Homo sapiens: one gene and its partners. The protein of the gene in region 3 interacts with the protein of the main gene of each other region in a pairwise test. Each region holds a gene or a part of one and is shown on either strand. Other genes may lie near its edges. The genes, in order: ZDHHC17, BDNF, FUT2 and DLST.

Region 1 (7,751 bases), on a different chromosome or scaffold from region 3:
TTCTGGGCAGCATAGAGATTGCTACCCTGTATTCTTCTTGCAATGAAATAGCAGTAAATAAAAGATTTTATTTCTCTTTTTGAACTCAAAACATCAGTAAATTAAAGATGAAAATCATGTTTATTGATTCATAGTGGTGGCAAAAGAGTTGGTGAGCATTGTTCAGTTTTGAATTAAATATTATTTTTTTAATTCACAGACAATAGTTGAACTTGCAGAGACAGGAAGTCTGGACCTCAGTATATTCTGCAGTACCTGTTTGGTAGTATTTTCTTCTTTGTTCTTCCCTCCCTTCTCTTCCTCCTGACAGTGGCATAGCATAGCGGGTATGGGGTGTGGGGAAAAGGAATAATTATTTTCAATGAACACATTCCCTGCTTCTTGGTATAAGAGGAAAGATGGTTAAAGGATGTCTGCTTCCCAAGGCGCTTATTCCTCGATGGTAGGCCTTGACTGTACTTTTGATTCGGAGGTGCCGTTTATTTGTATTCATTCTCTTTCTCTTTTCTCGCTTAAAATGTTAATAAATTAAAAACTAAGTAATAAAGTATTTCAGATCAAAGATTTATAATGATTCCCTAATAGATTGTTTTCTTTACTACATTTTAAGAAAATTTATACTTGTATTTAAAAGCCACATGGGAAAATCCATTAGATAACTGTTAAGACAACATGGCCTCTAAACAAGTTCAATTTGAGTAGGTGGTTTTTTTTGTTTTGTTTTGTATCAGAATGTTTATGTAACTTTGAACACTGTTTTATCATAGATTTTTAAAGTGGTCATCCTCATCCAGGTCATAGGTAAAGATATATATGAAATTACTAGTATTTATTAATAGAGTCAGGTATAGCACTATTGAGATTGTTTATTATTATAGACATTAATTTTCTGTAGGATAATACTCTTATGTTTAAATTATTTTTCACTTAGTTTTTATAATTAGTATTTGTGAAAAATATATATACTGCCACAGTGCTTAAATTATGTTTTTCTACATGGAAATTGAAATATTCCAAAGTCATACATAAAACTAAATGCTCTTTTATACTTATACACTGCAAGTGAGCTCATGTCTTAGCATCTGATTAATAATAAAGTCATTGACTTCATTTAGGATTATGGAATGAAGTTTTGAAACAGTTCTAATTCTGAAAATTCTTTATTACACTTAATATTCTTTGACCAGTTATGATTTTGAATATTCAAAATATATACAGCTTCATGTTTGGTAGCAACTTTAGGATACCGACCAGATTCTTTTATATATTCCGGCATTCTGAAAACAGTTTTTGTTTCTGTGCTTTACAATGGGTAATTTACAAAATTGATATTCTTTTTCTTAATATTTAGAATGTTTTAATACACTGCTGTTCTGTGGAAATATACTGTTCCACAAAGTATGCAGTGCTGATGTACTTGCCATATGGCAAACAAATTATATAGTCATTCAATACAGATAGCAGTTTCATTGTCAAATACATATTTGATGGCAAGAATAAGACTAATTTTGTCATCATAGCATAAATGTTTTATTATATATTATTTATAAGCCACATACTTCTTGTTGTAAAGAAGATTTCCTATTATAAAATCTTGCAGATCAGCAGAGGTAGTTGTCATTATATGGGTATGCTTCACTTTGGTAAGTAGACAAGTCCCTAAGGCTTGTAGATCAGAGCTTTCTTAAAAACGAATTACTTTGTTGATTGCACCCCTGCACTCCAGCCTGGGCCACAGAGTGAAACCCTGTCTCAAAAAAAGAAAAAAGAAAGGATTACTTTGTAAGTGATCCAAGGAACCTTGAGACCAAGTCACACCTTAACCAGTTAGTCTGTTTTTCAGATTTTTGACAGTGTTGCAGCTGAGGGTTGGAAGTGGGGATAGAAGTTGTTTGAATATCCTGCTGCCTTCTCCTAAGTAGATTTAGTCTAACAACTGTGGTGAAGAATAACTTACCCTTTTCTTTATTCCACAGATAATTTTGGTAGATGTAAGAACTGTGTATTCACTGTGCCTTTTCCTTGGTACCTCAAAATAGTGTGTAACTTTATGCAAACTAATGGAGAAATGGCAGTGCTTTTGTTGAAACGCTGAAGTATATTTATAAATTTTTTTCTGGCAAGAGTTAATAACTGCAGCTCTTTTATCATATGTCTAGCATTAGGACTGCCAGCCCTTTGAAGATCACCAATGAGTTCTTGTATTCACTTGGCTGATTTAGAGTAATGTAGGTTTTAAAAACCATTTCAAAATGCTTGAAAAACAGACATCATAAGCATGGATTCTTTATTGCCTGTCAATAGCTGAATAATGAATTATATGGGGTTTTTTTTTTTGCAAGAAATAGTGACTTCTTAAGCATGTTCTGCATTCTTAAATATGGTCATTTCAGCAGGAGAAATGCTGTACCTTAATCTGAGATCTCAGAAGGCACTTTACTGAAGAGAAATAGATGTGTACATATGGGTTTTTGCTGGATTTGTTAATTTGGGGAAGACAAATATTTTATTGATGATTTTGAATTTTAAGAGCTTTTTAAATTCACTTTTAGCCTGACCTTCCTAGTAAGGAATAATTTTATTTTATTGAAAAACACCAATATCATGACCATTAATCATAATGGAACATCATTTAGAAGACTGGAGATTGATATGTTTTTATTACTCAGAAATTTGAGGGATGTGAATTAAACATAGCATCATTCATCAAATCAAATTGGTAATTCTTAGCTTTTGTAAATTGATGGTTCAGTTCCATTCTTAAGAGCATATTTTCTAGAGTAGCCTCATTCTTTTATTCTTTGTTTTTGCAGTTGAAATTTTATTAAACAATAGTGACTTTTGGTTTCATTCATTTGGAAACCTTGATATAATCTTGTTTAAAAAATATAGTTTTATTTTTTTATAATTATATTTTGAGAAAATAAATAGTCAGCTTTTCTCTCTTAGTATAATGCCTTTCATAATCCTTTAACATGCCTATTAACAGATACGAAAACCGGTGAGGTCCAAACATTGTGGTGTGTGCAACCGCTGTATAGCAAAATTTGATCATCATTGCCCATGGGTGGGTAACTGTGTAGGTAAGTTGTATTAGTAATTTCTTCTGTATCATTCATTTAAGTTACTTTAGGTAATGAATAAAGTATAATATTAAAGTAGGCAATAGAAAGTTTATTACTCCACGCTTCATTTTCTCAGTTATCTTCTGGTTGACAACACAGCAACTCAGTTGAGAGAGGGAGGGAAAAAAATTACAAAATTAGTGGCTGATACCTTTTCTCTGTCAGTTCTATCTGGTGCCTACTCTTGATAAGGAGGCAAAATTTTTTTTTTCTAGTTAAACTAGAGAGATGAAGGCGGTAATATTTGAAATGATATTATGTGCAGAGGTAGAGAGGAATGACAGATAAGAACAGTACACACATTAGTGTTCAAGAATGGTATAGTCTAAGGAGAGAAACTACATGGTTTGAGACATGCCCCGGAGATTTTATGAGGTGACAGGAAACATTACAAAGATTGTTTACCTCTGTTGAAGAGAAACCTTTGGATTGTAAAGTTTATAAAAGTAAAGATAAAATAGGGCTATTTTAAACCTCACAAAGAATAGGATTAGAGGTCAGAATTGTGATTTATTTAGTTCTTTGGGACTTGAACACCATTGTCATCATTATATCTTTGTGTGTAATTGCAAGCATTCTTATTTAAGATTTTTATTAAAACATTTTTCCTGAAAACCACTTTATAAAATAATGAATGTATGTGTGATTATCATCAAAACTGTAGCACACCTTTCATGGCATACCCCTCAAAGGTGCATTACCCGTTGTTTTTTTCTTAGCTGAAAAACCTTGCTTCTGTGTCGTTCTTCAGGTGCAGGCAACCATAGATATTTTATGGGCTACCTATTCTTCTTGCTTTTTATGATCTGCTGGATGATTTATGGTTGTATATCTTGTGAGTACAATTAGTTTTCGGTCTTTTTAAAACAAATTTCTGCATACTTAGATTATACTTACCACACTAACAAATTACTATAATGACAAAGGTCGTTTAACTAAAATTATGGTTTGGACACCTTATGAAGCACAAAAGGGAAAAAAGATACAGCTCTATCAATTATGTCCAATATACAGTGTAAGCAAACAGTTAGCAGTTAACCACCTTTTAATACTTGTGTCCTCTGAAAAACATATTGGTTTAATAGGCTTTGAGAAGCTTCTGGGTGAAATACATCAACATTTTCCACATCATGTGCTTGCTTTACTATAGTAGCTTATAGATTAAGTGATTGTCTTAGTTCTGTTTCTTACCAAGCAGTTGGGAAAATATACTTAAAATTAAATTTGCAGAGAATTTGAAATATTTTGAAAAGTAAGGTATAATTATTGCCTATTAGAGAATATTAGTAAATATCAGAAGTTACCTTTTTAAGAATAAGTTGTTATTCCATCATGTGGGTTTTATACCTTAAAGGAAATGATAGATTTTTGTTGCATTGAGAATGCAGTCTGGAAAGAGTTTAAGTGGATACGTCACTTACGATGCCTCAGGGCTTGGTGGTGCTTGGCATAAAGATGTATTAGATCCTCGTTTAAATACAAGTCTTGGAAGGATGATTTTCTAGTCTTCCTGCCCCACAGATAGTAAAAATAATCAGTGTTATTGCCCTAATGAACCAAAGGAGGTTACCACCTCAGTTAAAGATTAATAGGAAGATTTGGTCAAAGAACTTGACCTAATTTCTGGCCCAGCACACCTGAGGAGAATACTTTCTTGCCAACAACAGCAGTATTTTATAGCAACTCTCCTACAGCAGGAGATTTTGTATTAGGAAAGGCCTACCTTGGCTGGGCATGGTGGCTCATTGCCTATAATCCCAAAACTTTGGGAGGCAGAGGCAGGTGGGCCAGTTGAGGCCAGGAGTTTGAGACCAGCCTGGGCAACGTAGGAAGAGAGACCCCATCTCTACAAAAAATACAAAAATTAGCCCGGTGTGGTAGCGCATGCCTGTAGTCCCAGCTACTCAGGTGGCTGAGGTGGGAGGATTGCTTGGGTCCAGGAGGTCGAGGTTGCAGTGAGCCTTGATTGAGCCACTGCACTCCAGCCTGGGTGACAGAGCGAGACCTTGTCTGGAAAAAAAAGCTCATGTCACCATCCTATTATGTTATATGCCCTCTTTCAAAAAAATCTCTTTCATATATCCTCTCATCTTTGTGTAAAGAAAATGTTTTTCTAAGTATTATGTGATGCAATACCAATCAAATAAAATTGTTAATTCTGAAGATACAGTGATTTTTTTTTAAGATTGGCTGCTCCTTTTCCATTTCTGTGTTTTTTCACTGAGATATAATAGGGTTATTTAAGAGTATAAAGACATTTGCTATTGAATGTCATCAGTTAAATCTAGACTGTTTGACTATGTTTTCTAAATGGTGCCAGCACAAATGCCTATATGAGGTGCTTGGATGATTATTGAGTAAATACGAGTACTTCTGTTCTGGCTTTAGACTGGGGACTCCACTGTGAGACCACTTACACCAAGGATGGATTTTGGACATACATTACTCAGATTGCCACGTGTTCACCTTGGATGTTTTGGATGTTCCTGAACAGTGTTTTCCACTTCATGTGGGTGGCTGTATTACTCATGTGTCAGATGTACCAGGTATGTGCAAAGGCATTCTTTTTAGTGCACTAAGTGAAAACTCTTCCATCCTTGCATAAAAGATAATAATATATTCTCTTCCTAACCACTCCTGCTCTTCAAATATTCATTTTATTTTTCAATTTAGTTTTCCTTTCTACCTCACTCTTTTGCCCCTTCCTCTTCTCATATTGTGAACTTTTGAATTTTAGTACTTATCTCAACAGAAATTTTAATCTGTTATTCCTGACTTAAATACATCCAGTTGAGTATGTGTGAGCTCAGATTGATGATGACATTAATTTTGTGTTTTTAATGGTATTTTTATTCACAAATACTAATATTTATTCAAAAGCCTTTTTTTAATTTTTAAAAGCTCATTCTCAGAGAGGCTGATAGGGAGGTTGTCTGTGCAGGAATAGCGCCTGTCCATGCACAGTGTCAAGTAACCTGTCTTTAAATATTTTCCACATTTAACTGGCTACTTTTCACAGTCAAATGATACCACGTAAACTAGTTCTGATGATCTCCTGATGGAAAACCAAAAACAGACTTCATTGTTTTTATCTTTATCCTAGTTTTCTTCAAATTAATTTTTTTATATTAAGTATTTAGAAAGAATAATGGTTTGTGCAGCCTGGCATGGTGGCTCACACCTGTAATCCCAGCACTTGGAAGCCGAGGTGGGCGGATCACTTGAGCCCAGGAGTTTGAGATCAGCCTGGGCAACATGGTTAAACCCTATCTCTAAAAAAAAAAAAAAAAAAAAAAACCCAACAAAAAAAAGAAAATTAGCCGGGCATGGTGCATGCGCCTGTAATCCCAGCTGCTGGTGGGGTGGGGGTTTTGGGGTGGGGGGAGGTGGCGGGGGTGGAATCACTTGAGCCCACCCAAGAGGGAGCTGAGAATTCGCCATTGCATTTTAGCCTGGGTGACAGGGCAAGGTCCTGTCTCAAAAAAAAAAAAAAAAAACAAGAATAATGGTTTGCTTTTTCTTTCCTCTTAGATATCATGTTTAGGTATTACTACAAATGAAAGAATGAATGCCAGGAGATACAAGCACTTTAAAGTCACAACAACGTCTATTGAAAGCCCATTCAAGTATGTACATATTTATAAATTTAATATTTTACCTGGTCATAAAAATTTTCTTACTAACCAGACTCTTTTACTTAGTGATATGTAAAATAGCTTTTAAACCTTTTTAAGATTTCTGTAGAAATAGCATCAGTTCACCATAATAACAACAAAACAGAATTCATCACATTAACTGTATATAATAAAGTTGTGATATCTCCTTATATTTTTTTCTTTTTAATTTTAAATTTGTATTCAGTCTGGTGCTTAGAAATAGTAGGGTCCTAAGTATATGAAATATTTAAAACTTTGAGTTTTACTGAAGTTATTACCAACTCTTCAGCTTTTGTGGTGCTGTCAATTATGGCATACTTCTGGAAAGCAAGCAGACCTTTAAATAAAAACAGAGTTAGTTGGGTAGTTTTGAGAATTCTCCCATAGGTACAAAAATTATATAAGGCACAAAACTGACTGCTTTTCTTTTCTTTTTTTTAGACAGAGTCTTGCTCTGTCACCCAGGCTGGAGTGCAGTGGCATGATCTCGGCTCACTGCTACCTCCACCTCCTGGGTTTAAGCACTTCTCTGCCTCAGCCTCCTGAGTAGCTGGGATTACAGGCATGCACCACGCCCAGCTAGTTTTTGTATTTTTAGTAGAGATGGGGTTTCACCATCTTGGCCAGGCTGGTCCTGAACTCCTGACCTCATGATCCACCCGCCTCGGCCTCCCAAAGTGCTAGGATTACTTACCGACGTGAACCACTGGTGCGCACCTGGCCAAAACTGACTGCTTTTCTAAAGGTGTTACTGGAGTACTAAAATTTCATGAACTTATCCTTGACATTTCTTTTTTAAGTTGTTATCCTTAGGTTCACTGCCAGATTCATGCTATTTATAATTATTTTGTCTTTTACTTTTTTTCTGTTTTAGAGATAGTTTGTCTCCTGCCAAAGAGCCACTAATTAAAGGTTTTTATCAAAAATTACATATGGAGCCAGGCATGTTGGTGCATGTCTGTAGTCCTAG
Region 2 (7,751 bases), on a different chromosome or scaffold from region 3:
TTAATCCCCTTAGTCCAATGATCCTCAAATTTGAGTGGGCACAGAATCACCTAGAGGGGTTGTTAAAACTCAGACTGTTGTACTCTACCCCCAGAGCTTCTTATTTAGTAAGTCTAGGATGGGAACTGAGAGTCTGCATTTGTAAAAAGTTCCCAGAGATGCAGATGCTGGTTGCAGAACACACTTTGAGATCATTCCATGAGTCTAACTGGAGGAGAGTATGGGTACTGTTATCTCCAAGTAAACACTGCTTGGTATCTGTTGGAGCAGGTCTCTGCTGGGTAAGGTTTCTATTTTATGTCTTTTTCCTCTTTCCTTCCTGATATGCACCAAATCCCAGTTGAGCAACTATTTTTTAAATGTTAGGGCTCAATGGAGAATGCAGCTTCACTAAATAAATTTAAATGTGTACTGCAGTACTTGACATGGATTTTTTCAAATTGTGAGCACTTAAGCCAGACAAAAATATTTCCCCTGGGTTCAGCCATTCTATGCAGACCAGCCCCTGGTTTCTAAGGAACCATTTGAAATAGAGTACAGTACCAAAGTGCAGAGCTGCAGAAGCATCTTTATGTCCTTTCTAAATGTAGAACATACACCTCAAGCTCAGGATTTCAACTAACACTTTTTGGTCATTTACAGGCTTGAGACAAGTCCTGTCATTAACTACAACATTATGTGTGAGGCTTTTTTCAGGACAGATAAGCTTATTTTTCTAAAGGAAAGGACTTTTGTTTTTCCAGATATAAAATAGCAGCTCACACTTAAATGCAAAGGTCTTGTTTATTGTTTGTGTGGTGAGGTTTAATTGGAAGGCCTGCTTTTTACAATTCCATGCTACTGACATTACCAAGCACACAGGATTGTTGTTAGAAAAGCAAATGCCAGGCTGGGGAGCTCCTAATCTGGTGGTCTGTGCCTTGTAAATAATTAGGGTGTGGGGGTGAGGTAAAGGCCTATGGAAATCCTACAGAGTGCCACAGAAATGGGTCTTCTCAATTATGATAATGTGTAAGATCACAGTGCTTTTTCTGTTAATATTTAAACATAGTCTTCAAGTAATTTACTGCAAATAATCACATATTAAAAAGCAAGGAGTTTGCTTTTTTTTCCCTACAAATAATTCAAATGGTGGCCAGAATTGAGAGAATGGATGATCATACTCACAAGATTGGGGATAGACATGCAGGCAGTGTGTTTATTAGAAGGAATGTCCATAAACATGGGCTGGTTTGGAGTGGCTTCACCTACTCTAGTTGCTAAGTTTAGCTATTAGGTGGGGAGTTCACCAACCACCAGTTAGTTCAATGTAACCAACAAAAGTCAGATTCCCAACCATTACCCCCGCTTGTCACCAAACCAAGCAGCCAACCAACCTTTAAAACCACAGTTTAAAAACCCACAGCTAAAAGGATGGCCTATGTTCCATAAAATACTAATTTTGCTGGTCAACATTCTGAGGTTGGATCAAATCTGTGAATGGCTTTTTGCAAGCTAAATGCTTCATCTTCCTAAATTTATGTACACGTATATTGTTTCTTATCCCAATTAACAGTCTTTATTTAACAATGGCTTATCAAAATATGCAGCCATTTCTACTTTAACTTGTAGACCAGGCTTGATGTTAGAACATGATGGAGACAAGTATGTTTTACAATAACCTTAAACCTTAACACTATTGGGAGTGCTGGCTGAACTGAGGCAATGCCTGAAGCCATTTGTTGCAGTTCAAAAAGTGTTTGACATTTTATCCAGATCTAGAAGTCACTTAAATGAATGAGGAACAATTTAACACTGACCCATTCTAAGACTTAGTTCAGATTCTCATTTCGAACTGTCTTATTATTCACTGAATTAGTACAGCTCATAAAAAGATTTCATAGACACAGCTAATGACCACAGAGGCTTATCAGTATGGTGAAAAACAACAGATCAAAGCAATGATCTGAGTTATTTCCTGGCATCTTAGTAATTAAACAAGTTTAACTGCTTACTCAATGAATGCAGTACACATTGGTTACTCCTATTAACTCCAAGTAGGATAATTTAGTAGATGTCTCTATTTTGTTTTTTTCTCCAACCTCATCTTCTAATGAAAACTTTCAGTCATGTTTACCAAACTCGTTTAACTTCAAGTAATTTGGATGTCATGTTTAATTTTTACTTTTTTTACTCAACCATTTAAAAAATATTTTAGTCCTCTGACTATGAAAATTGGTCAAGCCTGAAGTTTATCAAAGTTCTAAGTCCATGGCTGGGCTGTCATGACTGGCAGTCAAGGGCTTCTCTTAGAGTACTTTTCAAGTTCACTGGACAGATTAGGATAGAGTAATTCATCTCATTCGATCTGTTTTTCCATATACACAACACAAGTCAATGTTTGTTATGACTTTCCTGATCCTTATTTATAAGACAATACAAGAGGAAACCATGTGTGTATGTTTAGAAATAGAAATGATACATTGCACAGATATAGTTCACCACGTTATGGGATGGGTTGTCAGTGTTCAAATGGGGAGGCTGAAGAGTAAGAACAGATGCTTTTTTTCCTTAATGGCCCCTTCTCTGATTTAAAATCCTTCCATTTATTTCCCTAAGATTTAGTGATAACTTTAAACACTTTAACTAAATTACCCAGCGGCTTGGCAGCCATCACGGAGGCAAATCCTTTTAGAAATCCTAGCAATCTGTTAGATTGTGGGTACTATGATATAAAATCTGTGTGCTCCACGTACAAAAATTAAATCAGTGCTATGGATACAAATACATACTGCAAATGGCACCACTTCCAAACCGAGGATATGTGACCTGTCTCCAAATATTGAATTTCTTTTTTTACTTTTTTCCCCAGTACTTGACTTTCTAAATTTGGGCCAATTTATTCTCATTATCCCTAAGTAAACCTACTTTGATTTTTTTTAACAGTTATTTTATAGTCAAATAGAGCCAGCCAGCCAGCCGTGATTCGTGGATCCTGATGTTGCTAGGATACATGGTTTGGTATCTGATGAAAGTATATCACTTCAAAGGGGTAAAACTTTCAAGTGTCCGAGAAAATGACACTCCCATCTTCCACCATGGAAGACAGATCCAATCCTACAACTTCTCAGAAGCTCACAGACTGCAGGATTGGCCTCCCAGGCTTTCAAATAAGTATCCTCTCTGGAGGGCTGTTTAATTACTAAAACTAGTCAGATTAGTCTTAAAGCAAGGAACACACGTATTTATAATAAAACACGTTTTCATGTTTGTTTTACAGTAAAGAGAAAAAAACCCAGAACCCCCAGATTTTATGTACTTTGAAAATATATTTAAAAACATTAAAAATTCTATATTTAAAACATATATTATATGTTAATTAGTACACTTAAATAGAACTTGTATTTACAATAGGCTTCTGATGCGGTTAAGTTTTAATGCCAATTTTTTTCAATAACATAATTATATAAATATACTAAAATACAATAAATATTGTTTTTTGTTTTACATGGTGAATAATATCTTTACCATAGAGAGAACAAGGCCACAGACATTTACTTACATTTTCAATGGGAATCGCCATAAAAAAGCAACAGGCCTGCTGCCATGCATGAAACACTTCTGCCACAAAGAGACCACAGCAAGACTTTAAAAAACAAAACAAAACAGAACAAGAACGAACACAACAGAGAGAGATTTTAACAAAATAAATCTTAGGTCAACATAAACCATCAAGCATGTGACTGTGATGTATCTTATTGGGTAAAAGAGCCACTGACCACACAATTGCTGGATGTGTCTCCTATGAAACCACTTAACAGATCTGGCCCTTGCAATCCTTTAAGTTTGTGATGGGGGGTTGTTTGTTTTAAATTTGTCCCTCAAAAGGAAGCTGCATAAAGTTGACATACAGCAGATATTCCAAGCATTCCTTACATATTAAAAATAATTACAAAGATAATATTTTCAAACAACACAAAACAAATCTACACTACGTAAAGTCTTCCTTCTTTCAAAGAGGTATTCAGATGGTACTGTGAAAGACTAGCTCTAAATGAAAGACTGAACAAATTGAAATTCTTTGCTGATGGTATCTTCATTCCTGGGTTATGGTGAACATCCTCTTTTGCTTATCCCTCACCCTACTAAGATGCAGCAATTGCTTGGGGCTTTCTGATACTTAAGGATGCTGGTCCAAGTGGTGATCACTAACATTTTCAGGTGTGAAATGGGCTGAATGGGCTTAGAGCTCTAGTTTTCACTGGGGATCCATTTTTCCAAGAACCACTATTTCAGGCTCCCAACTTGACTTCTCCTAACCCAAAATGGCAGAGGTGAGGCAGGGACCCTCTCCATGAACAGACAGGATGGGCAGAAGGTTGCTGTGGCCTTCACTGGGGAGCAAAATTTTGTCAGCTCTGTCCTGGCCTCTTCCATTGAGCAAGGCACCTTCAAGTCTTGGTGTTCTGAATGTCCAGACACCTTCCCGAAGTCTTGTCTCTGGACAAGATTTCCTATGGGTCCCCTTGATCATTCGGCCTGAGTTTGGGGTTTCTTTTCCTGTTCCCTTTTCCCTTACCAAAAGTTCTCAAAAGATAAACCCTGGTTTCCTCAAGTCTAGTTTCAAAGCAATAAGTGTTCAGGTAGCAAACATCTTCTATCTCATTGCATCAATCTCATGATCACAAATGCCACATTTGGCTCCCAACCTGCTCCAGGCTAATCCAATTTTATGCAAAATTATCCAGAGGTGGGATGGTGGGCATAAGTCGGCTTGAGTGTGGTCCTCCAGTCGAGAACCTCTTGAGCACAGTTAGATAATGTAGGCACTTAAAGCACGAGGTCCAAGCAGCTTGACACATGTCATTCCAGAGCCACCTCTGAAGGGTCCTTCAGAGGCCTTCGTTTTGGAATGTCTCAAATACCATGCCCCACCTCCACCTAGACCTTGGGATGGCCACTCAGAAATTCCTCCCGCACTGCCGGTAAATGCAATGCCAACTCCACATAGCCTCCATTTGGCTGTTCAGTCTCATGTCACTGGCAATGTGGATTCCTGTTCTGATCTAGGTGTTTCTGGGTTGATACAGGGCTCTACCTTTTGCTTACAAGACATTGTTAAGCCTCACCATGAGTTTTTTTTAAGCTTAGCCATGATTTACCCAAATGTTCACTCCTCATAAAAAATAATCTTCATTTTGGGGTTATTTTTTGTTGTTTTCTGTTCTAAAAAAAAATCACTGTTCTCCATGCTTATACGAGTGTCATGATGTGACACAATGTGTTCACTTGTTCACAGCAGTGGTAAAATATTTCAGAACGCGCAACTGATTTTTCTTCCTTAAAACAAAACAAAGAGGAGACCAGAGGGGGAGGGGGGGAAAGAATGTGTTCTGAGCAAACATAGGTCCTTCCGTCAAAAGCAGCTTACTCTGACCAACGCCCAAAGAATGAGCGGGGCCTGGGAGGTGCATCACGGGATGTGGAGTGTGAGCATTTTTTTGTTCAGTTGCCTTAATTTTTATTCACTTTCTAGTCATCTGATCGATATTGCAAACATCTTCACAACATACAAATGTATCTTTTATCAGCCAGAATATATATTGTAGGAATTCTTTCCCCATCTCTACTCCCTGTGGGAACTAAAAAACAAAACAAACAAACGAAAAAAAAACACAAAACAAACAAAAATATACCCCCCATCCCCCATCCCCTAAGCCAGTAAAGCAATGACAACAGCACCTTGACATTGTTTTAATTCCAACGCTATCAGAAGTTAAAAGCAGTAAAACAGATATAGTACTAACAAGAACGAAGATACTTACTGTCTAAAATGTAAACGGAATGTTTTGGTTCAAATTTTTGTTGTGTGTGTGTGTGTTTTTTTTCTGTTTTCTGAAAGAGGACAGTTTATTATCAATTCACAATTAAAGCAGCATGCAATTTATTATTTTTTTTAACTTTTTATGTTTTCAGTTCTTGGCAACGGCAACAAACCACAACATTATCAAGGAATGTAATGCAGACTTTTTAAGTTGTGCGCAAATGACTGTTTCCCTTCTGGTCATGGACATGTCCAATAAATAGATTGTAGAACCACTGTACTGTATAAACTTCATTTATACATGCAGTTCATAAAATTATTTTTTTCTTAACTGAATAATTTACCCTGTTATGTATATATACAAATAGATAATTTTTGTCTCAATATAATCTAATCTATACAACATAAATCCACTATCTTCCCCTTTTAATGGTCAATGTACATACACAAGAAGTGTCTATCCTTATGAATCGCCAGCCAATTCTCTTTTTGCTATCCATGGTAAGGGCCCGCACGTACGACTGGGTAGTTCGGCACTGGGAGTTCCAATGCCTTTTGTCTATGCCCCTGCAGCCTTCTTTTGTGTAACCCATGGGATTGCACTTGGTCTCGTAGAAGTATTGCTTCAGTTGGCCTTTTGATACAGGGACCTTTTCAAGGACTGTGACCGTCCCGCCCGACATGTCCACTGCAGTCTTTTTGTCTGCCGCCGTTACCCACTCACTAATACTGTCACACACGCTCAGCTCCCCTCGGCGGGCAGGGTCAGAGTGGCGCCGGACCCTCATGGACATGTTTGCAGCATCTAGGTAATTTTTGTATTCCTCCAGCAGAAAGAGAAGAGGAGGCTCCAAAGGCACTTGACTACTGAGCATCACCCTGGACGTGTACAAGTCTGCGTCCTTATTGTTTTCTTCATTGGGCCGAACTTTCTGGTCCTCATCCAACAGCTCTTCTATCACGTGTTCGAAAGTGTCAGCCAATGATGTCAAGCCTCTTGAACCTGCCTTGGGCCCATTCACGCTCTCCAGAGTCCCATGGGTCCGCACACCTGGGTAGGCCAAGCCACCTTGTCCTCGGATGTTTGCTTCTTTCATGGGGGCAGCCTTCATGCAACCAAAGTATGAAATAACCATAGTAAGGAAAAGGATGGTCATCACTCTTCTCACCTGGTGGAACTGTAGGGAGAAAGCAGAAACAAGACAGAAAACTGGTTAGGGCTTTCTTTCACCGGGATGCCATGTGGCCCATCTGATTGTAATTCCAGGCCATTCTGCAGGGTCAAGGTTTTTTTATGTCTTGGTGATAAACTCCAGCTGCACCAGACACAAATCAGTGTCAGTAGTGTGCTGTATGTGGTTTAATATAAACCAGAGACATGCAGTGTTTCCCCCAAGATCTAGCATATAAACCTGAGATTAGATGGCTTCTAAGCAAGTGCAAAAATTGTGGCTTCAAGTTCTCCTTCTTCCCACTTTAGCAGCTTTGTAAGTTTAATTTTTAATGATCTCTGCTCATGCTGTCACGAGAAACACAAAATCATAAATGTTACTAAGCAACAACTGCAAGTGTAATTAATAGTAATTTTTTTCAAGTTAGCAACATGGTCCTTTGCAGGAATGTGTGACAGGAACAGCAGTGGCCTGAGGGGTCTGATGGGCCTTTCTAGCTATGTGATGTCTAGGCATGAATAGCACAATAAAACAGCAGTTGGGGAACTATAAGGAGCCTTTAAATTGACTTTTTTTTTCCTCTTCCCACAGAGATACTCTATTATAGCAAAGAAGAAAGATAATTTCATTGAGCCATCCTGTTTTACAGGTAAGGAAACCAAAGGCCATAGAAGACTTGCCTTATGTCATGAAGAAAGTTTATGTTAGAACTCAGGGCTCCCAATTCCACTGTTCTTTATTCTACACCTGGGTGGTCACAACTGAAAATGTTTTGC
Region 3 (7,751 bases):
CCCCGGGCCACCAGGTCCTTCCTTGTCTCCTTCCCCTCAGCAGTTTCTATGAACCACCCTGGCAGTAATGGTGCAGATGGCTCGCGCACAGCTGGTGGTGACCCGACTTTCCTGCCTCCACCCTGGGGCTCCTCAGAGGCTTCATGGAACCCAAACTGCTGGTCTCACCTCCGAGCCCTGCCGTCGCCCAGGGAGGGCGGCTCCGTCCCTCCTGCACTCCCTAATCCCGCTCTGAATCACCGCTTCTGTTCTGGGTCGGAGAATAAAGGTGGGGTTTCCAAGTGATGGCCCTACGTTATTGTCTGAAGCTCCCTTCTCCTCCCCAGGGTGGAAGTGATAATGCCGGGAATCCGGGAATCCCGGGGAGGTGCAGGAAGACAGCGAGCTCGAGGCAGTGGGGTGCGACTGAGCCGGATGTGCTGAGCTGCCCGGGGCACGGGGCGGTTGGGGTAGAGAAAGGCTTTCAGAGCTGGGGGACAGGACGGGGCCCCGGGTGAGCGGAGAGCTGGGTTATTTCACGGGAACAGCTGGTGACAAAGCCGGAGGGGTGTGCGGGGCCGGCGAGAGACTGGGATTGTGTCTTAAGAGGCATAGGGAGCCCTGAAGGGGCTGCGAGCTGGGAAGGGGCAGGGCCGGCGCTGGGTGTAGGGGACAGAGGGGAGAGGAGGAAGCCGGGCCGCAATAGAAAGACGTGGACGGGGCTGGACGTGGTGGCTGACGCCTGTAATCCCAGCACTTTGGGAGGCCGAGACAGGCGGATCACTTGAGGTCAGGAGTTCGAGACCAGTCTGGCCAACATGGAGAAACCCCGTCTCTACTAAAAATACAAAATTAGCCAGGCGTGGTGGTGCATGCCTGTAATCCCAGCTACTCGGGAGGCTGAGGCAGGAGAATCGTTTGAACCCGGGAGGCGGAGGTTGTGGTGAGCCGAGATTGTGCCATTGCACTCCAGCCTGGGGAACAAGAGCAAAACTCCGTCTCAAAAAAAAAAAAAAAAAAAAAAATCTCAGTAAGATAGACCAGGTGTGGTGTCTCATGCCTGTAATCCCAGCACTTTGGGAGGCTGAGGAAGGAGAACAGAGGACCTCCTGAGGCCAGGAGTTTGAGATCAGTGTGGGCCACATAGCAAGACCCCCTCCCCACCATCCCTACAAAAAAAGCAATTCAAAAAAAATAATGCCTTCAGGCAGAATGGGAGTGGTGCTTGGTTCAAGCCTGACATAAGTGTGAGTTTGGGGCACAAATTCTGCTCTGAATACCAGGGACAGCCCATGTAATACAGCATTTCCCTTTGTGCCCACGCAGCCCTAAGGGAGGTGTGGTTTGTTGTTGTTGTTGTATCTTTTTGAGATGGATTTTTGCTCTTGTTGCCCAGGCTGGCATGCAATGGTACAATCTCGGCTCACTGCAACCTCCGCCTCCCAGGTTCAAGCGATTCTCCTTCCTCAGCCTCCCAAGTAGCTGAGATTACAGTCATGAGCCACCATGCCTGGCTAATTTTTTGTATTTAGTAGAAATGGGGTTTCACCATATTAGTCAGGCTGGTCTCGAACTCCTGACCTCAGGTGATCCACCCGCCTCAGCCTACCAAAGTGCTGGGATTACAGGCATGAGCCACTGCACTGGCTCTTTTTTTTTTTTTTTTTTTTTTTTGAGACGGAGTCTCACTGTGTTGTGCAGGCTGGAGTGCAATGGTGTGATCTCAGCTCACTGAAACCTCTGGGGAGGTGTTGTTTTTATCCCTCCCCACAACCCCCTGTTGATGGACAGACAAGGACAATGAAACACAGAGAGGTAAAAGCCCTGGGTTAAAGTCACACAGCACATAAAAGGTTCCTGATCATGCCGTGCAGGGCATCTCGCCAAACCTCAAAAATTCACAATCTCATAGCGCAGCTTGCTCTGTGAGGCCTCCCCACCTCTTCCTTCTCTCCTTCCAGGCTCCAGTCAAGGTCAGTGCCCAGCTTCCTGCTCTGGGCCACTCAGCAGCCACCTTCCTCCTTCCTGGGTAAGGAGGTAGGGAGCTACCAAGGAGGCAGGGACATCCGTGTAGAACATTCTGCTTTTCTTTTTTCTTTTTTTTTAAGATAGAGCCTGACTCTGTCGCCCAGGCTGGAGTGCAGCTGTAGTGTAATGGCACAATCGCAGCTCACCACAACCTCCATCTCCCAGGTTCAAGTGGTTCTCCTGCCTCAGCCTCCTGAGTAGCTGTGATTACAGGCATGTGCCACCACGCCTGGCTAATTTTTGTATTTTTAGTAGCGACGGGGTTTCTCCATGTTGGTCAGGCTGCTTTCAAACTCCTGACCTCAGGTGATCCGCCCCCGCTTGGCCTCCCAAAGTGCTGGAATTACAGGCGTGAGCCACTGCGCCTGGCCTAATTTTCTCTAAAATAGAGACAAGTTCTCACTATGTGGTCCAGGCTGATCTCGAACTCCTGAACTCAAGCAATCCTCCCAGCTCAGCCTCCCAAAGTGCTAGCATTACATGTGTGAGCCATCATGCCTGGTCCCTGTCTGTTTCATTCTCCCTGTCTCTCTAGTCCTGCCTCTCTCTGTGTCTTCTGGTCTTTTTCTCTATTTGTCTCTTCCTCTGTCCCTTTTATCATCTCTGTCCCTTCCCTCCCTCCCTCCCTCCCTTCCTTCCTTCCTTCCTTCCATAGGTGAGAAAAAGTAGCATCTTTTCCTCACCTATCACAAAGTTTGCAGCTGGGGCACCTACAGTAAAAGGTTAACAGACACAAGCATAACAAATGTATTTAAGGCAAGTGTTGACATGGGAGCCTTCAGAAATGAAGGCCTAAAGAAACAGGGAAACCTGGGTGGGTTTTTTGTTTTGTTTTGTTTTTAGATGGAGTTTTACTCTGTCGCCCAGGCTGGAGTGCAGTGGCGCGATCTTAGCTTACTGACTGCAATCTCTGCCTTCCATGATCAAGTGATTCTCCTGCCTCAACCTCCCCAGTAGCTGGGATTACAGGTGCGCGCCACCATGCCCAGCTAATTTTTGTATTTTTAGTAGAGAAGGGGTTTCACTATGTTGGCCAGACTGGTCTCGAACTGCTGACCTCAGGTGATCCACCCACTTTGGCTTCTGGAAGTTCTGGCATTACAGGCGTGAGCCACTGTGCCCGGCTACCTCCCGTTCTATGATCTATGGTTTAAACGCTACATTTGACCACTATCAATACTCCCAGTATCAAAACTGGGAAACCTGGGTTCTTCACCCAGAGCCTAAAACGAACAGCATTCTTTGCCTTGTGGGTGACAATAGCAAACATTTACCGCCTGTGTATATGTGCCAGACACTGTTTTAATCCTCAGAGAGGTGATGTCACTTGCCCAAAATCACACAGCTCGTGACTGTGAGTCTGAAATTGGCCAGAGCTTGTGCACCTAGCCACTGGTGGTGATGTGTCTTTGAGTCATCGAGTCCAGCATTCTGTGTTGGACTTAGTGAAAGGATATACTTTTGTAGTGATGAGAAAGGAGCTTTATCTAGAATTTGTGAGGCCAGGCATGGTGGCTCACGCCTGTAATCCCAGCACTTTGGGAGGCTGAGGTGGGTGGATCACTTGAGGTCAGGAGTTTGAGACCAGCCTGGTCAACATGGTAAAACCCCGTCCGACTAAAAATACAAAAATTAGCCAGGTGTGGTGGTGCACACCTGTAATCCCAGCTACTCAGGAGGCTGAGGCAAGAGAATTGCTTGAACCCAGGAGGCGGAGGTTGCAGTAAGCCAAGATGGCGCCACTGCACTCCAGCCTGGGTGACAGAGCAAGACTCCATCTCAAAAAAAAAAAAAAAAAAAAAAGAAAAGGAAAAGAAGTGAACTGGTTCAAAGACCATAATCATACATATCACACAAGACTGCAAGCGGACCAGGGTCAGTTAATTTAGCGGCTCCACAAAGTCATCAGTCACCTGAGCTCCATCCATCTTCACATGCTGTGCTACCATTTATTTTATTTTATTTTTTTTTTTGAGACGGAGTCTCGCTCTGTCTCCCAGGCTGGAGTGCAGTGGCGCGATCTCGGCTCACCGCAAGTTGCGCCTCCCAGGTTCATGCCATTCTCCTGCCTCAACCTCCTGAGTAGCTGGGACTATAGGCGCCCACCACCACACCCGGCTAATTTTTTTATATATATTTTTAGTAGAGACGGGGTTTCACCGTGTTAGCCAGGATGGTCTCGATCTCCTGACCTCATGATCCGCCCGCCTTGGCCTCCCAAAGTGCTGGGATTACAGGCGTGAGCCACCGCGCCCAGCCAGCTACCATTTCTTAGCTGTATCATCTCACGGTCCCAAAAGGGCTGCTACACATCCAGCCATCACATGCAGATAATTTCTTTCAAAAACAGCAGAAAGAGGCTCGTTCTTGTCTTGGTCCCTTTTGAAGAATGAATGAAACCTTCCTAAGCCTTCCAGCAACTCCCCCCACAACTCCGATGGGTAGGAATTGTCACATAACCATGTGGCCCGATAGGAGGCAAAAGAAATGAGACTTCTGGGATTAGTTTAGCCTCAGATTCTGCAGCTGAGAAGTTGATCAGCCACCTCTGAAGGACAAGCAGCTTGCAGAAAATTAGGGTGGTGTTACCAAGGAGAAAAGGGGAAATGGCTTTAGAGTAGACAACAGGGATGCCCTGAGGGGTTGTGTAGGTTGTTCACTGCACGAAGTCCCCTGGTCAAGAAGGTAAGCGGGGTTTAAACAGACCCACAGTCTACTCATCAAACCAGGTGTCCTTGGCATTGTGTCCACCCAGAGAGCTCACTATTTTCTTTTCTTTTCTTTTCTTTTTTTGAAATGGAGTCTTGCTGTGTCCCCCAGGCTGGAGTGCAGTGGCATGATCTTGGCTCACTGCAGCCTCCGCCTCCCGGGTTCAAGCAATTCTCCTGCCTCAGCCTCCCGAGTTCAAGCAATTCTCCTGCCTCAGCCTCCCGAGTAGCTGGGATTACGGGCGTCCGCCACCACACCTGGCTAATTTTTGTATTTTTAGTAGAGACAGGGCCTTGTCATGTTGGCCAGGTTGGTCTCCAGCTCCTGACCTCAGCTAATCTGCCCACCTCGGCCTCCCAAAGTGCTGGGATTACAGGCGTGAGCCACCGCGCCCGGCCACAACTCATCTTTTAGAGCCAGCCTACACTTGTCATAGGCCATGGCCGATGAATGGGAAGTCCACGGTGGAGCTGGGTGTTCCTCTCAAGTTCAACTGGCTGCGGCCAGGAGGGCAGGCAGGCCAGGTGGACAATTTCCCTTCAAAGTGGATACAGGCAGGACATGCAAAGATGAATATCTCTGGCACTGGACTCTGGCAAGTAGGAAAATAAAAACAAAAGATGAACATCTTGGGCCGGGCGCGGTGGCTCACATCTGTAATCCCAGCACTTTGCGAGGCTGAGGCAGAAAGATCACGAGGTCAGGAGTTCGAGACTAGCCTGACCAACATGGTGAAACCCCGTCTCTACTAAAAATACAAAAGTTAGCCAGGCGTGGTGGCGGGCGCCTGTAATCCCAGCTACTCAGGAGGCTGAGACAGGAGTATAGCTTGAACCTGGGAGGCAGAGGTTGCAGTGAGCAGAGATCGTGCCATTGCACTCCAGCCTGGGTGACAGAGATTCCATTTCAAAAAAAAAGAACATCTCTACAAACTGGATCACCAGTAAATAATAGCTACATATACTTGTACTCACCATATGTGGACACCCACATATGTACACTCAGTCGATAAACACCCACATTTAAACATACCATGTGGGCCAGGTGCAGTGGCTCACGCCTATAATCTGAGCACTTTGGGAGGCCAAGGTGGGAAGATCACTTGGGCCTAGGAGTTTGAGACCAGCCTGACCAACATACTGAGACCTTATCTCTACAAAAGAGAATTTGTTTTTAGTTAGCTGGGCGTGGTGATGTGCACCTGTAGTCCCAACTACTCGGGAGGCTAAGGCAGGAGGATTGCTTGAGCCTAGGAGGTCAAGGCTACAGTGAGCCACGTTCTCACCACTGCACTCCAGCCCAGGTGGCAGAGCAAGATCCTGTCTCAAAAAATAAATAAAAAATTAATAAACAAAAAATGCATACAATGTATAGATACACAAAGTGTATATATATACATATATATGTATACACATTCACATATACACACATGCTGTGTTCACAATCACCTAGATGACATATGTATGTGTATACATACTTACACATATACCCTTACATGTACACGATATATCTCTACCCATACACTACCATGTACACATGTCCATTTGTACACAGCTGTATATGTACACACACAATTTTGCACACACCTGTATATGTATACAATGTATGGATCCCCATATCCACATTACACACAATGTGTACGCATCTACCTGTGTACACACACCCACCTATGAACACAATGTAGACACATCTGTATAAACACACTTGAGATACATGCCTGTGCACATAGGCAAGTATGTGCCAAGTATTTACACACCTGAAGTAGAAGCACACACACACCCACACTATGCCTGCACACCACCGCATGGCCACGTTCACCAGCGCCCCGGGCCTCCATCTCCCAGCTAACGTGTCCCGTTTTCCTCCCCTGACAGCCATGCTGGTCGTTCAGATGCCTTTCTCCTTTCCCATGGCCCACTTCATCCTCTTTGTCTTTACGGTTTCCACTATATTTCACGTTCAGCAGCGGCTAGCGAAGATTCAAGCCATGTGGGAGTTACCGGTGCAGATACCAGTGCTAGCCTCAACATCAAAGGCACTGGGACCCAGCCAGCTCAGGGGGATGTGGACGATCAATGCAATAGGCCGCCTGGGGAACCAGATGGGCGAGTACGCCACACTGTACGCCCTGGCCAAGATGAACGGGCGGCCCGCCTTCATCCCGGCCCAGATGCACAGCACCCTGGCCCCCATCTTCAGAATCACCCTGCCGGTGCTGCACAGCGCCACGGCCAGCAGGATCCCCTGGCAGAACTACCACCTGAACGACTGGATGGAGGAGGAATACCGCCACATCCCGGGGGAGTACGTCCGCTTCACCGGCTACCCCTGCTCCTGGACCTTCTACCACCACCTCCGCCAGGAGATCCTCCAGGAGTTCACCCTGCACGACCACGTGCGGGAGGAGGCCCAGAAGTTCCTGCGGGGCCTGCAGGTGAACGGGAGCCGGCCGGGCACCTTTGTAGGGGTCCATGTTCGCCGAGGGGACTATGTCCATGTCATGCCAAAAGTGTGGAAGGGGGTGGTGGCCGACCGGCGATACCTACAGCAGGCCCTGGACTGGTTCCGAGCTCGCTACAGCTCCCTCATCTTCGTGGTCACCAGTAATGGCATGGCCTGGTGTCGGGAGAACATTGACACCTCCCACGGTGATGTGGTGTTTGCTGGCGATGGCATTGAGGGCTCACCTGCCAAAGATTTTGCTCTACTCACACAGTGTAACCACACCATCATGACCATTGGGACGTTCGGGATCTGGGCCGCATACCTCACGGGCGGAGACACCATCTACCTGGCCAATTACACCCTCCCCGACTCCCCTTTCCTCAAAATCTTTAAGCCAGAGGCAGCCTTCCTGCCGGAGTGGACAGGGATTGCCGCAGACCTGTCCCCCTTACTCAAGCACTAATGCTGGCCCATTCTTTGAGACCTTTTCTCCTTCTCTGCCTCCCTCAAGATGAGTGCCCGGGCATGAGAAGCACATGGTTCCATGAGCAGGACCCATCTCTCTTCTGTGAAGATGCGTTGGGCTGCAA
Region 4 (7,751 bases), on a different chromosome or scaffold from region 3:
CTGAGATGGGAGGATTGTTTGACCCCGTCACTTACATATTTTCCTAAGTGATTCAGAATCGAGTGGATGAAAAGGCAAAGATAGGCTGGGCTTGTCTTTCATTTTACCCAGCTCTGACAGTGAAATGGAAAACAAGTTGTGTTTTTAAATAACCTTAGAATGTTAACCAAAGGTACTAATTCACTAGGTATGCCCATTTCTGTAGTGAGCTAATTGTTGACTTACCTGTTTTCTTCAAGATTTCAATGTGTTCAAGTATCAGCACTGTCAGGAAGAGAAATTTGACAAACGTGTTTTGAGTGCGTACTGTATACAGAGTACTGTACTGTGGAATTCAGTGGGGATAGACGCTGGGCACCATGGCTCGTGCCTATAATCCCAGAGCTTTGGGAGGGTGAGGAAGGAGGATCGCTTGAGCTTAGGAGTTGGAAACCAGCCTGGGCAACATAGCAAGACTGTCTCTACATAAAATTTAAAAATTAGCCAAGTGAGGGCTGGGTGCGGTGGCTTGCGCTTGTAATCGCAACACTTTGGGAGGCTGAGGTGGGTGGATCACATGAGGCCAGGAGTTCGAGACCAGCCTGGCCAACGTGGTGAAACTCTGCCTCTACTAAAAATACAAAAATTACCCAGGCATGGTGGCGTATGCCTGTAATCCCAGCTACTCGGAAGGCTGAGGCACAAGAATTGCTTGAACCCAGGAGGAGGTTGCAGTGGCTGATATCGCGCCACTGCACTCCAGCCTGGGCAACAGAGCGAGATTGTGTCTCAAAAAAAAAATTATGTATGGTGGCATGGACCTATAGTCTCAGCTACTTGGGAGGCTCAAGTGATCTTCCTGCCTCAGCCTCCCAAATGGCTGGGACCACTACAGGCATGTGCCACCAGGCTTGGCCAATTTTTTTAGTTTTTGTAGAGACAAGGTCTCGCTGTGTTGCCTAGGCTGGTCTCCTGAACGTCTAGGGTCAAGCCATCCTCCTGCTTTGGTCTCCCACTGGGATTACAGGCATGAGCCACCATTCCTGGCCAAAAAAGAATTTTTAAACAGGTCTTCAAGAGTGACTAGCATTTTGTCAGCCTTGTGGAGAAAGGTCATTCCAGATGATGTTAACAGTGTAGACCATGAGATGGGAAAGTAGAAGACACATTTGAGAAATTGTCAAAAATCATTTCTGTTGTGAGGATTTTGTATAGCAAAGAATGGTAAAGAAGGTTGGATCCTTATTTCAGAATGTTTTGAATGCCAGGGTAGGAGTTTATATTTAATTCAGGAAGCAAGTCAAGTCTCAGGTCATCTCTTTCTTTCTTTTTGTCCTGAGGGTTTAGTCTGCGAATCTACTTTTCATTAGAGAAATTTGCTTTTCTTTGGAAAGGGTTTGAAAAATAGGGAGAAGGGAGTGTTTTCTTGATAGTGCGCTGTGGCATTGTTCAGAGTAGGGCTCTGTGACCTGTTTTACTAGATGTCATCCATTCTGTTGGGAAACTTTCCGAAGAGACTGGATGACATTCAAGCCAAAGATTTCTCTCTTGTTCATAGGATGTAGGGGAAGGACCTTGACTAATGAATCACAAAGGCTGCAGCTTATGTTTCAGTGCATTAGGGCCAAATTGTACACAAATTGAATTGGACTTTGAAATTCTACCCAGTTTCTTAAGACAAAACATGTAAATATTTGTGGCCCTGAAAGATGCAGTTGGCCCAACAGCTTTGATTGGAAAGGAAGCGTAATAGCTGGATCTCCTTTCAGCAGCTAATCAAGGTGTCACTTAACAATGGCCTGCGGTCTTGCTGCAGCCTAATTTGGTTTAGATCGAGTGCCCTTTGGGTCTTGTGCTGATCAGCTAACCCATAAGGGACCTTTCTGAGACCTTCTCCCTTCCTCTATTGTCCCAGCCTTTGCCTCCAAGGGCAGAGCTCTGAAATAGAAGCTACTTAATGACCAGACAATAACATTTGGGCAGGTTTGAGAGCAGAGATGTTTATCACATCTCTTTCCCTCTTCTGCAGCTCTTGTGTCTTGGGAACCAGTAATGTCTTTAGGGTGGTAATCCTAGCACTAAATAAGGTTAGAATCAGGAAAACAAGCATTTTAAACCCAATCAGTCCCCCTTGGAAAAACTTCCTTTTTCAAAAACAAAAGATCTGAAGGGGGCTGTTAAAATTGTACCACATCTTACCTTTCATGCTAATGTCGAATTAGGCCATTAGAGGGAGAAAGGGAGAACTGAGCATTTGGCCCTGAGATAAAGTTAAATTCAATTTTCATCGTAGAACTGCATTACTGCATTCCGATAAATACTGAGGTTTATGCAGCAAAGTGATGGGAAAGCCATTTCTCACTAACTCTGCAATGTGTCATTGAAAAAAAACCAGTCCCAAAAGAATAAAGGCTGCTCATGTTGTAAAGGCTTTTCAGAAGGCTTGCTGCTTAATCTGAAGGGAACCAGCCTAAACCACAAGTGGCCACTTTTCTAAATACCAAGGAAATCACAGCCATTAAACTAATCTTAGGGCAAGAACTATGTCTTAATTAGCTTTGTATCTTGGTACCTGGCCCTGACCCTCACATGTAGTAAGGTGTTAGTACCTGTTTGGAAGAATAAGTGGATGGAACTGCCAACCCTGGAAAGATGAAGAACGGATATGACTTTCCGTGGGCCTGAAAGAACACTGGGTTATACCCTTCCCTGCAGAGTCATGACTGCTTTTTCCCGCATGGAGCCTCATGTACCCATGAGCTGTTTATTTTAGTCTCCACTAATCAAGAGATAGGAGGAATATCACACGGGAGTTATACTCAGATTTGGTGGGGTTTTTTTTTTTTTTTTGTATTCTAACAAGAAATAAAAAGAATATTGCTTATTTTGTAGATTTTGTTTATACTTTAAAAAATTTTTTTTCAGGATGGATAGCTCAGTTATTCAGGGCAAGGATGTTGGTGTGCTGTGTGATCTCTTGTTCATATGATGTGTCACTGAAATCTGTGACTTCTAGACCATGAAGGAGCCCTGTAAAGAGATCAACCCACCTTAAAGACAGATTGGGCCTGATTCCTGTAGATTTCTTTGTAAAAGAACAGAGTTACTGTGTTAACCTCAGGTAGACTATTTCAAAACTTGAACTAAGGTAATGGTCCAGAGTGAGGGAAAAGCTCTCACCTAATTGTGTATATGGATTGAGAAACCTGTGTGAAAGTCAAAATGCAGGCTTTGTGGTCAGTTTGTTTTGTAATATTTTCACAGTAACATCCAGGAGATGAGGGCTCGGCACAAAGAGGCTTTTTTGAAGAAACATAACCTCAAACTAGGCTTCATGTCGGCATTTGTGAAGGCCTCAGCCTTTGCCTTGCAGGAACAGCCTGTTGTAAATGCAGGTGAGTTGCTTGTGGCTGGAATTGGAGAGGTCCTGGGAGGTAGGTGTATGAGCACAGACCTGCTCCCACATGCAGAGGATCAACAGACCAAGGCTTTTTATTTGCTACCTATAGAAATATCAGTATCTTCCCCAGGGATTTCTTGGTTCACCTTCCTGAAGCAGCATCATGATTACTTTCTACCCGCCAGCTGGGCAGAACAGTTTCTCTTCCCAGTGTACAGCTCGGCAGCTGCTCAGGCAGCAGGCAGTTCTGGGATAGCCCAGCTCTCCAGGCTGTCTCCTGTCAAGGTGGAAGCACGTGTTCTGGCTTCCTCCCCTCCCCCAGCTCCACAGGCCCTGTTACCTTGGGGCCTGACTTCCACAGTTGGTGTAGGCTCCTGGCTGACCTTTGATCTTAGGTCGATGGGCCTCACTGGGAGCTTCGGCTTGGCCTCTCATGGACCTGGTGCTTATTTTCTTTCCTTTTTACTTACCTACGTCATTGTAGTGTTGACCTAACAAGCACTTTGTTTTCCTGTTGACACACTTCTCTGTTCCTTGGGAGATTGGAGAGGGGTCAGTGCTACTTTTGCCATCCTCAGCAGTGTCAGGGGCCCTAAAGGTCTAGAAGTAGAAGCCCTAGTCCCTCCTGTTGAGTGGTGCTCTAGGGAGGTAGAAGGCCATCTTTGTTTTGCCCAAATGTATACCTCTTCTTTTTCCCATTCTTCTCATGCCTCCCTGACTGGCTCTCATCTTTTTCAGTGGCCCCCTTCTGCTTGCCCACACATGTAGGCGGCTCTCAAAAGTTCTCGTGGCCTCTTTTTCACATTACATGCTTCCTCTGGATGTCTTATCTAACAATACAACATGGACTTTCTGCGGAAATGATTCCCAAGCCTTTATTTTCCCATTAGTTGCTAGGTGTACATTTTCAGATGCTGGTTTGCCATCTCTTGAGGTAGCATATTTCAAAGCCAGATCACCCCGCTTACTCTTGGATCTCCCCTCTTCCTCTTGTTGAGAGTTGGAAGCAGAGAATGGGTAGTATCTCTATATCCCTTTTCCTTTGCTAATTTGCCCTTTTTTGGAACATTTGTTAACCCTAGTCATTCTCTGCTAAAGGAGGGCTTGACTAGAGCTACTTAACGAGAGTTTAGTGCATACCTATCCTATGGAAGCCAGTGTGTTGAGCCCTTCTTAGGGCTGCCAAAGAAATGGATGCTCCTATGCCCAGGCTCAGTCAGGGACTTGGGAGATACTATACTTGGGATGGGAGTAAGTGGAATGCCAGCTGCCATGCATAATGCAGTGGTGTTCATGGTGGTTGGTCAGCCCACACTGTATCAAGCTCTGCAGATTTTTACTCTGTTAATGCACATATTACCTCATTAGTCTTGGCCTTCCTGGGGAGTTGTATGTAACATGTATTTTCTCTCTCATAGTGATTGACGACACAACCAAAGAGGTGGTGTATAGGGATTATATTGACATCAGTGTTGCAGTGGCCACCCCACGGGTATGTTGGGGCAGGAGGTGGGGAATGTTGGTCTTAGACCCTCACCTTATCTGTGTGAAGGAGATCACACAAGAGAAATCATTTCTTTAATTCTGTATTTTTAGAAGGGAGTTAGTAAAAGTAACCTTTTTTTTCTTTTAAACCATGCCGCATTCTTTTAACACTTTCTGTTAATCACACTGAGTAATGAAGGTATTCTAGGGAGGGCATACCATGGGTTGAATCAAGGGAGTTGTTAACTATAAAAGGTACTATTAATTTGCAACTGAAAACAGCTTTTCACCCCCTTCAGGGTCTGGTGGTTCCAGTCATCAGGAATGTGGAAGCTATGAATTTTGCAGATATTGAACGGACCATCACTGAACTGGGAGAGAAGGTAAAGTAGAAAGATGTATACAAGCTGCTAAGCAGGCGAGGGAAGAGAGCCTTCAGAAGGCTGGGCTCACTAGCAAGCAGTGCTCATGGAAAGTCAAGTGCATAGCCCCTGAGAAAAGCAGTTGCCCATGAGAGCTAAGTATTTTATATATCTGGTGGAGTTTACCATGCTCTGGTAACTGAAATCTCATCAGATGAGACCTGCTAGAAAAGATCATCTTTGAAGTCTTCAACTGTATGAAATTGTGCCTTTTCTCTGGTGGAGCACTGGTCATAGACACCTTAGCCGAACAACTGTCACACGGAAGCTAGCGCTTGTGCCATCGATCTCGATACAAGCTTTCTGGACTTCCTTTGCTTTTTTGTTTTTAGAGGCAGGGTCTCGCTGTGTTGCCCAGGCTGGAGTAGAGTGGTAGAGTCATAGCTTACTGCAGCCTTGCACTCCTGGGCTCAAGCGATTCTCCTGCCTCAGCCTCCCAAGTAGCTGGGACTACAGGTGTGCACCACCATGCCTGGCTAATTCTTAAGTTTTTTATACAGATGGGGGTCTCACTATGTTGCCCAGGTTGGCCTTGAACTCCTGGCCTCAAGCAGTCCTCCTGCCTCGGCCTCCCAAAGCGCTGGGATTATGGACTGACTTTAGGTGAAGGAAACTGGGTTGGCTTGATATTTCAATTATGAAATCTGTTTTTAGGCCCGAAAGAATGAACTTGCCATTGAAGATATGGATGGCGGTACCTTCACCATTAGCAATGGAGGCGTTTTTGGCTCGCTCTTTGGAACACCCATTATCAACCCCCCTCAGTCTGCCATCCTGGGGATGCATGGCATCTTTGACAGGCCAGTGGCTATAGGAGGCAAGGTAGGAACCGTCACTTCTAAGGTCCTAGTGGCTAGGTCTCGATGAAAGGGAAATCCAACTAAATGCTAATTGTAAAACATTAACTATAATTTCAGGCCTAAGTTCCATTTCTTAGTTTCTAATAGCTAAGGCACTGATTATCAAATTGTGGTCTGGATCAGCATCATCTGGGACCTTATTAGAAATGCATATTCTTAGACCCCATCCCAGACTTAAAGAAGAAGTGCAGATGATCCTGATGCATATTCAAGTTTGAGAACCACTGAGCTGAGGAGGCTTGTTTGCTTCTATGGAGTGGGGGATATAGTTGGAAACGTGGTCCCTTGCCCCTGGGAAACAGATGACAATTATGCATGTCAGTCTGTGAGCTGCCAAGTTGTATGATAAAGCTTGTAAATTTCCCGGGAGTTCAGAGAATTAAGTATTAAAAGGGGCTTGAGCTGGCCCTTAGAAGATACGTTGGTATCAAAAAAGCTTTCTGGGAACTCCTGTGTTTAGAATCCTTTTGGGTTACTGACTCCTGTGTGAAACCACAGTCTGTAGATCTTCCTGGAAAATGCCCATACACCCAGCTACACATACAATTCCAGAATTTGTAGACCCTGGCTTAATTTTTTTTTTTTTTTTTAAATTCTAACCCCAGAGAGAAGCAAGTACAGGCAGCCAGAACTGAAGGGAAAACTTTCCTTGTAGGCAGCAGATGCGTTAGAGGGCAGAGTATGTTTTTAAAAAATAAAAGGCAGTTGTGAGAAGACAGTTTTCTTGGCAAACTTTGTTTCTGAGTGGGGAAGCTTTGCACTGAGGGTAAGTCCTGGTCTTTGAAATACTGTAAATATGCAGAGGCAACATCAATAGGAAAGGCTCTGGAATTAGGAACTTTCTTATGGGCTGTGCTAAATCTCCTTCAGCGAGGCTGGCTGTGGCTTGCTGGAGACAAACCTATTTACCTTTCCTCTCTGTAGGTAGAGGTGCGGCCCATGATGTACGTGGCACTGACCTATGATCACCGGCTGATTGATGGCAGAGAGGCTGTGACTTTCCTCCGCAAAATCAAGGCAGCGGTAGAGGATCCCAGAGTCCTCCTCCTGGATCTTTAGGAGGAACCCACACACCCTACAAGTTGATCATGCAGGAACTGAAAACCAGTCTTCTCCCTGTCCCCTCATGGGTCCCGGGTTAGCCTGGTGACAGGCAGACACATGCTGTTGGCCTCAAGCAAGGAAGCAGAGCACTGTGTAACCAGCAGTCACAGGTCTTTTCTTGGCGTTCCTGCCAGGCTCTCCCTCTCTGCACCTGTCTCATAGCCTCGAATATCTTAATTCCTTAGGCTTAAGAGAGAGAGCCTTAATGGATGCTCATTCATATTCCTGCCTTTCTTCCATCAGCTCTCTGCAAAGATGATTTTGCTTTTCCCTAGTGCTGGTATACTATAGAGAAACCCCTGGGGACCATGTGATTAAGTTCCTATCTTTTGAAAGTTTGTTCTGCAGAGACTTCTAGGAGGATGCTGTGCCTCCCAAGCTCAGAGCAGCCTCTGTCCTGGCTGTGCACATTCTCCCTTGATTCCACTTGTGTGGAGGGATTGAACACAGGCAAAGAGGTGCTGCTTTGCTTCTTCAATGGCACCTTCATTCTCCGTTGTC

The links.
Region 1: the proteins of FUT2 (region 3) and ZDHHC17 interact in a two-hybrid assay, tested with the Homo sapiens proteins (one large-scale study listed by BioGRID and IntAct).
Region 2: the proteins of FUT2 (region 3) and BDNF interact in binary tests that used the Homo sapiens proteins (3 or more experiments, as listed by UniProt).
Region 4: the proteins of FUT2 (region 3) and DLST interact in binary tests that used the Homo sapiens proteins (3 or more experiments, as listed by UniProt).

Annotation. Positions count from the first base shown.
Region 1 is NC_000012.12:76,842,720-76,850,470, forward strand, and holds part of ZDHHC17 (palmitoyltransferase ZDHHC17), read left to right. Parts: intron 1-199; coding exon 200-262; intron 263-2,989; coding exon 2,990-3,083; intron 3,084-3,876; coding exon 3,877-3,960; intron 3,961-5,513; coding exon 5,514-5,671; intron 5,672-6,656; coding exon 6,657-6,751; intron 6,752-7,751. UniProt on the Homo sapiens protein: Palmitoyltransferase that catalyzes the addition of palmitate onto various protein substrates and is involved in a variety of cellular processes.
Region 2 is NC_000011.10:27,651,605-27,659,355, forward strand, and holds the end of BDNF (neurotrophic factor BDNF precursor form isoform a preproprotein), read right to left. Parts: exon of another isoform or gene 6,982-7,751; coding exon of another isoform or gene 6,961-6,981; coding exon 6,217-6,960; 3' UTR 3,289-6,216; downstream 1-3,288. UniProt on the Homo sapiens protein: Important signaling molecule that activates signaling cascades downstream of NTRK2. During development, promotes the survival and differentiation of selected neuronal populations of the peripheral and central nervous systems.
Region 3 is NC_000019.10:48,696,365-48,704,115, forward strand, and holds part of FUT2 (galactoside alpha-(1,2)-fucosyltransferase 2), read left to right. Parts: intron 1-6,085; exon of another isoform or gene 6,086-6,590; 5' UTR 6,591-6,592; coding exon 6,593-7,624; 3' UTR 7,625-7,751.
Region 4 is NC_000014.9:74,895,126-74,902,876, forward strand, and holds part of DLST (dihydrolipoyllysine-residue succinyltransferase component of 2-oxoglutarate dehydrogenase complex, mitochondrial isoform 1 precursor), read left to right. Parts: intron 1-3,243; coding exon 3,244-3,374; intron 3,375-4,797; coding exon 4,798-4,871; intron 4,872-5,163; coding exon 5,164-5,247; intron 5,248-5,940; coding exon 5,941-6,108; intron 6,109-7,070; coding exon 7,071-7,205; 3' UTR 7,206-7,751. UniProt on the Homo sapiens protein: Dihydrolipoamide succinyltransferase (E2) component of the 2-oxoglutarate dehydrogenase complex. The 2-oxoglutarate dehydrogenase complex catalyzes the overall conversion of 2-oxoglutarate to succinyl-CoA and CO(2).